2 separate regions of the Homo sapiens genome follow, and region 2 is linked to region 1. Evidence: fine-mapped expression QTL. Tissue or cell type: whole blood. Region 1 holds a variant in brackets; the other region holds the start of a gene. All regions are shown on one strand. Distances are between the middles of the regions.

Region 1 (2,500 bases):
TTAAGATTAATATAAGACATAAAGAACTGTTGTATTTTTACAACTTTTCTGTAAACCTAAAACTAGGTCAAAGAAGTTAAATAAAGGCTCAGTTTATTAGGATCTTACTTCCTTTATACTAGTAAATGTGCTATGAAAGAAAAATAGCATTTTAGGTTTCCCATCTTTAGTTACCAAGTATATATATAATATACCTAACTTTGACTGCTTTGCTATAGTAATTATTTTTAATGCTAAAAAAGACAAAGCAAATTTCTAGAGAAATAAATCAATAAGCACTTTTTATTAACTTTTTTGACAAACCGATAGTAAAACATATGCTACCTAACGATAACTGTGTCCCTTTATGTATGAGTCTAAGAGAAATATTCGGATTTTTATCTGGACAAGAAATTCAAAGGCTCCTTAAGAAGAAAGTAAATACCATGGTCACTAATGTAACCAGACTAAATATAAAAGCTACATATGTATGTGTGTGTGTGTGTGTATAAATCAATGTTTTGATCAATGTAACTAATCTGAGGTTACAATAACTCACTGCTTCAAATAATATTTCAATTACATGTAACAGATTAAGATACTGTTTAGGGGAAAACAGCCTCAGAAGGAAGTATGAACAAAAAGGGATATTAATCATTACCTTTAATCAAACTAATTATCAACCTTTCCCCCAACCCATAAAGACTTCATGTCTCTAAATGGTTCCTAAATCATGGAAGATAACTTGAAAAATTTTAAATACATCTCCAGGTATCAGATGCTTATGTACTCCATGTGGGTCCAACTTTTACTGCCCAGAGTTTCTTGTCATGGTAATGTAACATCATGAAAGTCTGGTTGCCAGATCTTTATGTTTTTATTTGTAACAGAGCTAAACCTTTTAACAATTATATTAACTACAACTAAGTTATTTGCTAATGGTAGTAGAATGATACATATGTTTTATTCACGAAAATAGTACTTCTGCAAATTTTTCTTTGTAAGAATTCCATAAATACCAAGGAAAAGAAAAGACTCAAGGGGTTTGGGAAATAAACCCCTTTTAATTTTAAATCTACATAAGTTTAATTTATTCCCAAACTTTCTAAGTTCTTCCAGAGTTCTGGCCTTCAGAATATTTCCTAATTTTTCTTCTTGAGTTCTGCACTAACTCAAAACCTATCCAAACGATCTAATTCTGTATTACCTATATTTAATATAAAGTACAATATATAGTCAACATTGTATCACTAGAATTGTGAAGCTCTTCATGACTTTAAAAAAAAACTCCAAAACAATTAAGCTATTT[T/C]TATTTAACATGTAATAGTCATAAAGCAACTCCATATATTTAGTTTTCTGATATCCTAATGTATTTCCACAAACCTTTTAAGTCTACAATTTTATATAGTTTTCCATCAGGGAGGCAAGATATATATAATTTCTTTTTATATTTAACTAAAGGTTTTAAGAGGGCTTAGTCTCTAAATCAGTAACAATTAGTCATAACACCATACAAACACATTTAAATATTCAGGAAAGAGGTTGTTAAGATTATTGCTTAGTCTTATAAAATGGTGAATTTTAACCAAATTGATACCTCTGTAATCTTATTTATGTTTCCTATAACATCATACTGCTTGGCAAGTAATGTAAGTTTTGACATAATTTAAAAATTCAAGTAGTTGTAAACAAATTCTAATTTGTTAAACAATTCATATATTCCCCTTTAGTTACTATACTACCTCAGAATTAATCCTCCTTAAAAAAGTAATCATCCCACATAGAAAAAACTGCAGAGCTTCATCTCTTCCTTAAATATTTTCAAGTACTGTAAGAACACAAATCCATGAAAAAACTGATTAAAATTTGACATTTCATCTTGCTTTACTAATTATGGAATAATACAAAAACATAAAAAAAATGTTCCTTAATATTTCTTTGCTTAACAGAGAAATACAAAGAAATACTGCAATTATGGTTATGGGCTACTTTCCAGCCTCTTCAAGTATAGGACACAACTATGGTTCCTACCAGTAGGGAGAAATGAATAATCAATCTTACATAACACAAAAGAAAGATGAGAGGCACAAAAAGACAAACTGACTTTGGCTTTTAAGAACCTAATGTTAACCCTGAAATGCCACATTCAGTAACACAACAACAAAACAAAAGATTACAGCAGCAAGCCACCACTTCACACAGTATTAAAAATTCGGAAATAATGTAATAGCCTTCCTTCCATCTCCCACTCAATCTGTTGTGGCATCTTTTTGTTTTTCCTGCTTTTTAGCTGCAGGCAGTTCAAGGCTTGCCCACTGCATCGGTTCAGCTTTTCTCATAGTGATTTCAATCTTTGTTGCAGTCATAGTTACATAACTTCGCTTTACATCAATCACCTGTAACATATCAAAGAGAATTACAGGAAACCTCAGTAGTTTTATTAGTCTCAGAGGAAAACATCAGACTTGCTTATGCCAATAATCCCAAATCCAAGCTTCTAAAGGCCTCTTTTATATCTAGT
Region 2 (2,857 bases), 21 kb after region 1:
CGGTTTTCCTGGTCGCTTTCTGTTTCCTAGGCACTGCACCAATTCACACATGGATACAGACTTCCAACAAATGACTATCGCCCCTGAACTTTATTGTCTCATAAGCAAAGCGTCAGTCTTTCCCCTGTATTCTATATTAAAGTAGAATATCTGCAGACATAAGTGCAATTAATGTTTTACATAGGCTGCCAACACCAAAGGGCTTTAAAATCGTTTCTCGATTTTGTCATCGACTGAAATCTCACAATTTTCCTCATGAGTAGCATCATATTTGCATCATAAAAATGTCAGTGGCGGTAACTTGAGTATTGCATAGGTTGGATTTTCCTTTTCCTTAAAACTCTGTATCAATGGTCTTATTTTAAATAACGCTATCAATTTACCTGTGTGCCAAAAATAAGTATTTCAAACATCTCAGAGGTGAAGAGTTCAAAAGGCATCAGTTTTCATCTCCTCCACAATAATGAAGGATGTTATTAATACAACCTCATTGAACTGAGCTTCTCTATCAAATGGGTCTAATTAACATTACATGCGTCCCAGGGTGGTTATGAAGATTAAATAAGATAAAGCAATAATGGCTGGCATGCAGAAAATATAAACTAAATGCTAGTTCAATCTGAAAACGTGTTGTCACTTCTCACGATACGCAAGGAATCATCTCACTTCTTTGTCAATCAAAATTTCAATTCACTGATCATTTCCCGTCCTTCACCTAATAGTCATTTTCGCTTTGGATCCTTAACTCGACATCTAGGTGCTGTAGATGACATTCACTCATTTTATACGGGAGTAGGCATGGTAGTAAAACGTGGAGGCCACAAGAAGAACAAGCAACAAATGCCGCTAGTAATAAAAAGATAACTAACGTACCACCAGGATGAACCTATCAAAACAGCGTGAAGATACAGAGTAATGTCCCTTACCAAGAACACTTGTAAGAGGTTTGTAACAGCGGATCGACTGAACACAAACTTCTACAAGGCAGAGCTTACATGCTAGGACAACCCGCTGCTCATCCCGGCCACCTCTCCCTCTCGCGCAGGCAATCACAGCCATCACTACTTCGGGAACTACAAAGCAAGCTCACCAGTACCTCGTTAATTTTTGCTTCCCCAGAGACTGGAGGGCCAGAGGAGAAACGTGTTCGTTCTAAATTCCAGGCGACTTAAAAGGAGTGCGGGGACGACGGGGGAAACACGTGGATCCATGGGAGCGTCTCTCTCCGCAGTGGCAGAGGACAGTCAGGCGCCGGGGCCGGGCGCTCGCCAAGGGAACGCGGCGCAACAGAGGGGCGGCCGGCGGGCTGCGCGGGCAGCCAAGGGAGGCCCAGGAGGGGCATGGACCTGGGGCCGCGCGAGGACGGCTGCAGGAGATCCGCGGACACCCTCCGGCCCAAAGGGCCTCCCCTGCTGATGAGGTGGAGGGGAGGGAGGGCTGGCGGCGCGTTCCTCTTACCGTCGGAATTGGTCTCAGGATCGAAGCGCTGACCGCAGCCCCGGTTGTAGCACAGCAAGGCCATTTTCTTTTCCCACCGTCACAGGCAAGGCCCAAACACCGGGAACGGCAAGAGGATGCGTTTGCCACTCCCGTGTCGCTAGCACCGGTCTGACGACTGAGGCGGCTACCGGCTTCCGGAAACGATCCGTTGCGTTTCAGGAACCTTCGCGAATTTTCCGGTCGCGCAGGCGCAGAGGAGAAGGGACGAGGCGGAGGTAGCGGCGGGAGGCTGGCACTAGCCCGGGCCACGATAGGTCGGACTACAGCTGGTAGCAACTGGGGGTCGGAAGTGGAGCCCAGACAACAGCGGAGGAGAAATTTCCGGGGCAGAAAATGAAGGTGTCCGAGAGACTGACAATTCTCTTCTGACTTCCTCAGTGCTAACTGGCTTTGGGTATCTCCTGCAGCAAAGTGGCCGCCCCGCCCTCTCATCCCCTGCGACCCAGCACCCTTCTTCCTTGCCTTGAGGCTGCGCCTTAGACAGCCCGGTGGGTATCTGTTTACCCCTTAGCACTAAGGGATAAGTGCACAGTAAGTGCAGAATCATACAGTGTTTCCAAATCCTCAGGGTAGACGTGTGAGCTTAGTAAATGAGAGGAATAGCGGACGAACCTCTCCGTGTGTTTGTGTCTCGAGTGCCCTCATCTCAGGAGCAATTTTAATAACTTAACAGTTGCGGTCACATTACTTTGAAAATACAAAAAACGTAGAAATCAGAGTAGCAAAGAAAATTATGGATCTGATGCTGTGCCAGAATTGATCACAGTTGCTCTAAAGCCCTGGGGTAATAGTTAATATTTCATGTGAGCCTCCACTTAAACGATTTATCAATACTCAGTACACCACTCTTGGAACAGCTAGTAAAACTTCAGGTGCATTATAAAAAGTACAGTAATGCATTGGCTTCAACTTGCATATTTCCCAAACATGGGCGTTTGCAAGAAAAGCAAACACTTTTTGATAACATATACTGAAGGATCTTAAAATAAGATCAGCAGCTTATAAGTGAACCTAAAAATCTATACACTGTTTCCATTGATCTCAAGGTTATTTAGAGATCTGCTCACGTCCTCCTACCCCTAAAGACTTTTTAGTTTTTCATATTCTCTTTCTCTTCTTCTACCTAGAAGTATTAAATTTTCATATTGTGATCCACCATAGATAGGTATGTTTTCTTCATTTAACCTAACGTGAGTATTTTTCTATTTTGTTTCATAGTCATTGTTACAAATGACGGAGTATTCTGTTGAATAAATGCACTGTAATTTAACCTTTCTCTAATTTCCCCAACTTTATTATATATAAGTTACAGTGCTCAACCTGTGTATTGTTTTTCTTATTTCGAATTTCCCCCTTT

Evidence for each region. PIP is the estimated chance that this variant, and not a neighbour inherited with it, causes the effect.
Region 2: CHORDC1 starts here. The variant in region 1 is fine-mapped to the expression of CHORDC1 in whole blood (TOPMed, PIP above 0.99).

The regions. Positions count from the first base shown.
Region 1 is chr11:90,200,177-90,202,676 of GRCh38, forward strand. It overlaps CHORDC1 (cysteine and histidine rich domain containing 1), which reads right to left. Exons shown (of 11, transcript NM_012124.3): 11 at 253-2,375. The coding sequence ends at 2,229. Among named protein-coding and RNA genes, the nearest start is that of CHORDC1, 22 kb to the right of the region's middle. The variant T/C (reference allele first, on the strand shown) is at 1,289.
Region 2 is chr11:90,221,433-90,224,289 of GRCh38, forward strand. CHORDC1 (cysteine and histidine rich domain containing 1) reads right to left here and starts at 1,617. Exons shown (of 11, transcript NM_012124.3): 1 at 1,459-1,617. The coding sequence starts at 1,522. It overlaps LOC124902812 (a long non-coding RNA gene), which reads left to right and starts at 1,727. Exons shown (of 2, transcript XR_007062978.1): 1 at 1,727-1,988.